Linked DNA regions of Homo sapiens: regions 2 and 3 are each linked to region 1. The links come from fine-mapping of genetic effects on gene expression. A gene starts in region 1. Each other region holds a variant in brackets. All regions are shown on one strand. Distances are between the middles of the regions. Region 1 holds the start of SEPTIN10 (septin 10). Region 2 has its middle 88 kb from the start of SEPTIN10. Region 3 overlaps SH3RF3 (SH3 domain containing ring finger 3).

Evidence for each region.
Region 2: its variant is fine-mapped to the expression of SEPTIN10 in substantia nigra (GTEx, PIP 0.95).
Region 3: its variant is fine-mapped to the expression of SEPTIN10 in subcutaneous fat (TwinsUK, PIP 0.95).

The regions. Positions count from the first base shown.
Region 1 is chr2:109,612,333-109,615,090 of GRCh38, forward strand. SEPTIN10 (septin 10) reads right to left here and starts at 1,634. Exons shown (of 11, transcript NM_144710.5): 1 at 1,466-1,634. The coding sequence starts at 1,495. It overlaps SOWAHC (sosondowah ankyrin repeat domain family member C), which reads left to right and starts at 2,032. Exons shown (of 1, transcript NM_023016.4): 1 at 2,032-2,758. The coding sequence starts at 2,158. It also overlaps a transcript of RANBP2 not described here. RefSeq lists an enhancer at 524-1,433 and silencers at 1,286-1,375, 1,406-1,655, 1,916-2,085.
Region 2 is chr2:109,524,194-109,526,951 of GRCh38, forward strand. It overlaps a transcript of RANBP2 not described here. Among named protein-coding and RNA genes, the nearest start is that of SEPTIN10, 88 kb to the right of the region's middle. The variant A/C (reference allele first, on the strand shown) is at 1,446.
Region 3 is chr2:109,360,042-109,362,799 of GRCh38, forward strand. The region is part of intron 2 of SH3RF3 (SH3 domain containing ring finger 3); the gene reads left to right. It also overlaps a transcript of RANBP2 not described here. Among named protein-coding and RNA genes, the nearest start is that of MIR4266, 48 kb to the left of the region's middle. The variant C/T (reference allele first, on the strand shown) is at 1,506.

The sequences.
Region 1 (2,758 bases):
TATAAAAAGGCATTAAGGGATCCTCCTGGTCCTGGGAACATCCTTTATCTTCACTGTATCAATCAATGACAATATGCTGGTTGTGATATCGTACTATGGGTTTGCCAGATCTTATTGTGGAAAGGTGGATAAAGGGTACAGGGTTCTCACTATACTGTATTATTTCTTACAACTGCATATTAATCTACAATTAACGCAAAATACAGTTTAATTCGAAAATAAGTAAAGTTAGCCTCAAAGCAAATTAAGTACAATTAAAAATAAATCTAACATCAGCTAAATGAAGTGTTCTCTTCTGCTCAAGCTTGTTTGGATACGTAATCTATGAATCAAAGAATTTATAAAACACATTTTCCTCACCAGGACCCCTCAATTTTCCCTCACTCACACATGCACACAAACACAGCAACTGAGACAAGGGGGTCCAGACAGAAAATTTGAGATTTTTAAAAAATACGCGATAGAATGAAAAGAGACCTGGGCTGAATCAGGGAGAAAAATCTTTGTCCAGGTTCTATAAAACAAACCAACGGTGTCACTTTGGACGGATCCTCTAATCTCTCAGCCTGCAATCTGAACTGTTTCTACAATTTAAACTTCTCATGTAGGAGGTTGCTTAGTAGAGTGGTTCTCAAACTTTTTGGTCTCCAGCCTCCAAAGAGCTTTTGTTTACACAGATGAAAACCACCAATGTTTACTATCAAAAATTAAAAGGGAGAATTTGTTTTTAAGAATACACAGGCATCGGGCCTCCAAACGGCGGTGAGATCACTCCATACCATGTAGCCTTTGGAAAACTCGATGTACACGACCTTGGTACTATTAACGAAAATAGTTGTAACCACACTTGGAAAACCGCTGGCTTACTAACAAGCGAGATAAATCTACAAAAGTAACTGGAAAGGTTCAAAACAGTGAACAAACGCGTTCTTTTAGAGTACAAAAGAGTCAAGGCGGGAAAAAAACGGTTTAAAATCCCAATGGAGGAAAACTTGGACGACCACACCATCGGATAAAACGGGAGAGCTTTTGAAAAGCCAGGGGAGCCGGGCTTTCTCCCGGCGGCAGGGAGGCTCGGAAGTGCTCACGGCTGCAAAAGATGACCGCTATTCAATCAGTCCGCACTGCGCCTTCAACTCCGTTATAGCCGTAAGAGACCCACAAACACCGCTGTGGATGTAACTTTTGGCAAAGACCGGGAAGTCGTTCAAGAACTCTCCCACCGTCCCGACGCTGGCGCCGCGCCCCGCGAACCGGGGTCCGGCCGCGCCCAGGCTCCGCAGAGGCTCCTCTCCCGCCCCAGGCGCCCGGCCGCCGCGGAAGCCGGGGAGCACTGGGCGGGCGGGGCCGGAGGGGGCGCGGGTCACAATCCCGGGCCGGACCAGGGGGCCGGTGGGTCGAGGGCGGGAAGTCCCGCGGGGGCCGGGGAGCGCGGGGCTGGGGCCCCGGCGTCGGCGGGACTCACCAGGTGCCGCGCCACCTCGGAGGAGGCCATGGTCGCGGGCAGGGGCACGGTGAAGCGGCTGTATCAGCCCGGCCCCGAGCGGCTGGTCCCGGCGACGGCGGCGGGAAGGCCGGAGGGCAGAAGCAACGGGCGGGGCGCGAGGCTAGGCTGCCTCCGCGACGGGGAAGGGACAGGGGCGGGGCCGAGCTGGAGGCCTCCGGGGGCGGGGTTGGGGCGGACGCCCTGTGGTGCGCGCTGAGCGTTTTGCCTGCGCCAAGCGAGCCCCTCACAGGAGCTACCCTCGACGCCTGAGGACTGAGCGTCAGCGTTGGGGCGGGCTGAAGGAGAGCTGGGACTCCAGGAAGACGGCGCGAGGAATGCAGGCGGGAACTGCGGAGCAGTGATTGCGGCCCTCGCGAGGCCGGAAGTGGGCGGGCCTTGAGGCGAGGCCGCCCTAGGTAGGTGTGGCCGAGACAGCGGGGAGCGGAAGTGGGCGTGGCCTGGTGGCGTGGGCGCGGGGCGGGGGTGCGGGGGGCGTGTCCGCCCGGGCGCGGCCCAGTGAGGCGGTGGCCGAGTCCTCTGGCCTCAGACGCGTAGGCTGGCAGCCCGCTGAGCCCGCCAGACTCCGCCGCCGTCGGGAGCCGGCCGCTGGGAGCCCGTCGCTATGGGACCGCGCTGAGCCGCCCGCTGGCGGGGGAGCAGCGCGGTCGAGGATGGAGGGGCCGGCAGAGTGGGGCCCCGAGGCGGCGCTGGGCCCCGAGGCGGTGCTGCGCTTCCTGGCGGAGCGCGGGGGCCGGGCCCTGCACGCCGAGCTGGTGCAGCACTTCAGGGGCGCCCTAGGCGGCGAACCGGAGCAGCGCGCCCGCGCCCGCGCGCACTTCAAGGAGCTGGTGAACGCCGTGGCCACTGTGCGCGTCGATCCCGCCGACGGCGCCAAGTACGTGCACCTCAAGAAGAGGTTCTGTGAAGGGCCGTCCGAGCCCTCCGGGGACCCGCCGCGAATCCAGGTGACCGCCGAGCCCGAGGCCCCCGACGGCCCTGCCGGGCCCGAGGCGCGCGATCGGCTCCCCGACGCGGCGGCCCCGGAGTCGCTCCCTGGACAGGGCCGCGAGCTGGGCGAGGGAGAGCCCCCCGCCCCCGCGCACTGGCCGCCCCTGAGCGCCGGGGCTCGCAGGAAGAACTCGCGGCGCGACGTGCAGCCCCTACCGCGGACTCCAGCCCCGGGGCCCAGCGAGGACCTGGAGCTCCCGCCACATGGCTGCGAGGAGGCGGACAGGGGCAGCTCCCTTGTGGGGGCTACCGCACAGAGGCCGG
Region 2 (2,758 bases), 88 kb before region 1:
CAGGGAAGCCACACAGCTTGTCCAAAGGCTCTAGCTGGTAGGGAGGACCTGGGGCTCAGAGGGCAGTTCTCTGACCTCCATCCACTGTAAGGACGGCTCAGTGGTCACACGCTGCCCACTGTCACCTTCTCATGACATGGGGATTTGAATGAGATCATGTGTGTGAAAGCCGGAGTGAAGCAGCCATAACACGCTCTGTGAATATCAGCTCCTGCTAGGGATCTTAGGGTGACAGAGTGGGACCCTGTCTCAAAAAAAAAAAAAAAAAAAAAACAAAACAACACTGGGCGCGATGGCTCACGCCTGTAATCCCAGCGCTTTGGGAGGCCGAGGTAGGCAGATTACTTGAGGCTAGGAGTTCGAGACCAGCCTGGCCAACATGGTGAAACCCTGTCTCTACTAAAAATACAGAAATTAGCCAGGCGTGGTGGAGCATGCCTGTAATTCCAGCTGAGGCAGGAGAATCTCTTGAACCTGGGAGGCAGAGGTTGCAGTGAGCTGAGATCGCGCCACTGCACTCCATCCTGGGTGACAGAGAAAGACTCCATCTCAAAAAATATATAAATAAATAAATAAAAATTAAAATTAAAAAATCTAAAAAGGCCTTCCATTTTTAAATTTTTAAGGGTTTCTAAATGAGAAAGTCCTAATTATAGAATATATAGAAAAGAAGGGAAAAGAATCAAGAAGGAAACAAATGGCACATGGAATTCCCAAGCCCTGGGTTCCTCCTCGGCGCAGATCTTCAGTTATGTTCCTTTCAGCAGGGTCAGGATTCATCCGTCCTCTGCATCTTCACTCAGTGCTTCTGCAGCTGCCTGCTGTCCCCACATCACAGACTAGTTCAACACTTTCCCATGGTGGGCATTTAGGCTCCTTACCGTTGTTTTTTTTTTTTTTTTTGTGGTTATGGATGAGGCTTCAGCAAATATCCCTTGACATCATTTTTGTTTTTGTTTTTGTTTTTTGTTTGGTTTTTGAGACAGAGTCTCACTCTGTCACCCAGGCTGGAGTGCAGTGACGCGGTCTTGGCTCACTGCAACCTCTGCCTCCCGGGTTCGAGAGATTCTTCTGCCTCAGCCTCCTGAGTAGCTGGGACTACAGGCATGTGCCACCACGCCCAGCTAATTTTTTTTGAATTTTTACAAGAAATAGAGACAGGTTTTCACCATCTTGGCCAGGCTGGTCTCGAACTCCTGACCTCAAATGATCTGCCCACCTTGGCCTCCCAAAGTGCTGGGATTACAGGCATGAGCCACCATGCCTGAGGGCTGAAAGTGCTAGTTACCTGCACCCTCACCAGCCGGAGCCCCACAGGCCTACACTCCCCGAGCTGACGCCAACCACAAAGTGGTGGGCTGGTGACGTGAACCCCAGGGCACTGCAGCCATGAGGAGGTCCAGCACCCGGCATTCAGGGCAGGATGGAAACATTCCTGGACAACA[A/C]CTTGGTCACCATCAGGGTAGCTCAGGACAACCTGCTCGGTGCCCATTTGTTGTAAGATGCCAGAGAGGAGGCTCTCAGTGGCCCTCTGGCCACTGTCCTTACTAGCAAAAGCAGCCTCCTCCCTAAATCATTGATGCGTTTCCTACTTGCACTTCCTACCTGCTGGAGGCCTGTCCTGGATGTGGCTCCGAGTTTCCTCCTCTGTTCAGGTTTTGGGATCTCTCTGGTCCTACCATTGTCATTGGAAGCAGATGGAGGGTAATTTTCTTTGTGCTGCTATTGCTAATTTTCCCAGCTCAGAAGCCTCAGCATTAACAGTCTCTGCAGCCCACTGTGGCCCAGTGAGTGGGGAGGTGGTGTCACCCAGGTTCTGGAGCTGCTCGCAATCCCGAGCACCAGAGCCACCACAACCAGTCACCATCAGGGCCCCTGACACACGCCCACAGGTGACCAGGAATCAGGGCACAGTAAGCACCAGACTAAGTTCCTTATGTCTTTTCACAGATGCTATTTCCCTCTTTTGTCTCTCAGGAAAGCTCATCTGCCACCCTCTGAGACCTCAAATTCGAGGCACAGGCTTCCTTTCTTGGGTTTAAGCCCAGGGCTGCCTGCTGTTGCCTGTGGCCCTGGGCAAGGCACCAGCCTCTCTGAGCCACTCTCACCTCCTTTTTATTTTTTATTTTTTTGAGATGGAGTCTCATTCTGTCGCCCAAGCTGGAGTGCAGTGGTCTGATCTCAGCTCGCTGCAACCTCCACCTCTGGGGTTCAAGCAATTCTCGTGCCTCAGCCTTCCAAGTAGTTAGCTGGGACTACAGGCATGTGCCACCATGCCTTATTTATTTTTGTATTTTTAGTAGAGGCAGGGTTTTGCCATGTTAGCCAGGCTGGTGTCGAACTCCTGACCTCAAGTGATCCACCTGCCTTGGTCTCCCAAAGTGCTCGGATTACAGGTGTGAGCCACCACGCCCGGCTCACCTCCTCTTTGAATGACACCAGAAAGCAGACTTTCTGGAGGCCCAAGGGTGGGAGGAAGTGCACGGATGTGTCTGCCATGCACTCTGGCACAGGGGGCTCACCGATGACAGCTGCAATTGATATTCTCCCCGGCTCTTGGGTCCCCAGATGCACCCTCTCTCCACCCTTGCCTGGGACCACCTCAGCCTGGTGAATTCCTATTCAACCCTCTGGTGGGCTGCTTCCTCTCTAGGAGACCCTCTCTGATGGCCTACAAATGTGTTCTCAGAGATGTGTCTGCCTCAGCCAGCACATGTTCGACTCTAGCACGAGGCTCGAGCCTGCCTGCGTGGGGGCT
Region 3 (2,758 bases), 250 kb before region 1:
ACTTCTGATGTTTCCTTGCACCAAAAAAAAAAAAAAAAAAGTATACACTTACCTTTTAATCAAAGCACAGCATCATAGGTAGAGACTGAAAGCCTGCCATTGTTTGTTGTTGCTGTTGTTTAACAGCTGATACAGGTATTCTGGAGAGGCTACTGTGCCGCTTAGTTACTCTGAACATGTAATTTTTTTCACTGTATTAATAATATGTCATATTTTTTACTGCTAAATACTTATGTGTGAATAATTGTAAGAAAATGATTGCTTATTGGTAGCATATAAATCCAGAGTCAGAAGTGAGGCTGATGCCAAACAACCACAGATGGTCCGCATGGGTGATACCCTTTGCTTTTTGTAGGCTCGATGTACACAAACTTTGTTTCATGCACAAAATTATTAAAATGTTGTATAAAATTACCTTCAGGTTGTGTGTATAAGGTATATATAAAACACAAATGAATTTTGTGTTTAGACTGGGGTCCCATACCCAAGATATCTCATTATGTATATGCAAATATTCCAAAATCTGAAAACATCTGAAGTCCAAAACACTTTTGGTCTCAAGCATTTCAAATAAAAGATACTCAGCCTGTATATAGGAAAGCAATTGACTTTTGTATATTAGCCTTGTATCCTGCAACCTTGCTATAATCAAGTATTAGTTCTAGAAGTTCTTCAGTTGGTTCTTTCAGATTTTCTAAATAGATGATCATGTCATCTGTAAACAAAGGCAGTTTTATTTCTTCCCTCCCAATCTGTACACTTTTAATTTCCTTTTCTTGTCTTATTGTATTATCAAATATTTTTAGTATGATGTTAAAAAGCAGGGGCAGAGAGTACATTCTTGCCTTGTCCTTGATCTTAGTGGGAAAGTTTAAAGTTTCCCACCATTAAGTTTCTCGTAATTAGGTGAACTGTAGGTTATTTGTAGATGTTCTTTATCAAGTTGAAGAAGTTCCCCTCTATTTGTAGTTTACTGAGAGTTTTTATCATGAATGGGTATTGGATTTTGTTAAAAGCTTTTTCTGTATTTACTGATATGAGCATGTGATTTTTCTTCTTTAGCCTGTGGATATGATAGGTTACATTTATTGATTTTTAGATGTTGAGCCAGCCTTGCATACCTGGGATAAATTCCACTTGGCTGTGGTATATAATTCTTTTTATACCTTGTTGGATTAAATTTTCTAATATTTTGTTGAGGATATTTGCGTTTATGTTCATGAGATATATAGGTCTGTAATTTTCTTGCAATGGCTTTGTCTGCTTTGGTATTAGGGTAACGTTAACCTCATAGAAGTTAGGAAATATTCTTTCTGCGAAGTATTGAGATTGTAGAGAATTGGTATAATTTCTTCATTTATATGTTTGGTAGAATTCACTAGTGAACCTATCTGGTCCTGGTTCTTTCTGTTTTGAAAGTTTATTAGTTGTTTATTCAGTTTCTTTTTTTAAAATGGAGTCTCGCTCTGTCACCCAGGCTGGAGTGCAGTGGCGCGATCTTGGCT[C/T]ATTGCAACCTCCGCCTCCCTGGTCCAAGCAATTCTCCTGCCTCAGCCTCCCAAGTAGCTGGGACTACAGGCATACGCCACCATGCCCGGCTAATTTTTTTGTATTTTTAGTAGAGATGGGGTTTCACCATGTTGGTCAGGCTGGTCTTGAACTCCTGACTTCAAATAATCTGCCCACCTCAGCCTCCCAAAGTGTTATTCAGTTTCTTTAATAGATAAAGGCCTATTGAATTATATATTTCTTCTTGTATGAGTTTTAGCAGATTGTCTTTTAAGGAATTGTTCCATTTCATCTGGGTTATCAAATTTGTGGACATAGCATTATTCATAATATTCTTTTATTTTTTTAACATCCATGGGACATACAGGGATGCCCCCTCTTTTATTCCTGATATTAGTACTTTGTGTCCTCTGTTTTTCTTAGTTTGCTTGCTAGAAGCATATGATTTTTATTGATCTTTTTAAAGATTAATTTATTGATCTTTTTTGTTTCATTGATTTTTCTCTATTGTTTTCAATTTCATTGATTTCTTCTATTTCTTTTATTTTATTTATTATTTGCATTTAATTTGCTCTTTTTTTCCTAGTGTCCTAAAGTGAAGATTTAGATTATTTATTTTAGATCTTCCTTCTTTTCTAATCGATGCATTCAGTGCTATAAATTTCCCTGTAGGTGCTACTTTTGCGGCATCTCACAAATGTTGGTAAATTACATCTTCATTTTTATTTAGTTCAAAATATTTTTTAAATTTCTCTTGAGAGTTTTTCTAAGACCCAAGTGTTACTTGGAAGTATGTTGTTAAATCTCCAAGTATTTTGGGATTTCCAGCTATCTTTCTATTATGGATGTCTAATTTAATGCTATTGTGGCCTGAGAGTAGACATTGTATGATTTTTATTTGTTTAAATTTGTTAAGGTGTGTTTTGCAGACCAGAATATGGTCTGTCCTGGTGAATGTTCCCTGTGGGCTTGAAAAGAATGTGTAATCTGCTGTTGTTGGTTGAGATATTATGTGGATGTCAGTTGTATCCAGTAGATTGATGGTGCCATTAAGTGCTATTAAGTTCAGTTATATCCTTACTGATTTTCTGCTTGCTGTCTCTGTCCATTTCTGATTCAGGGGTGTTAAAGTCTCCAGCTGTAATACTGGATTCATCTACTTCTCCTTCTGTCAGTTTTTTGCATCATGTATTTTGACACTGTTGTTAGGTGCGTGTAATGATAAGGATTATTATGTCTTCTTGGGGAATTG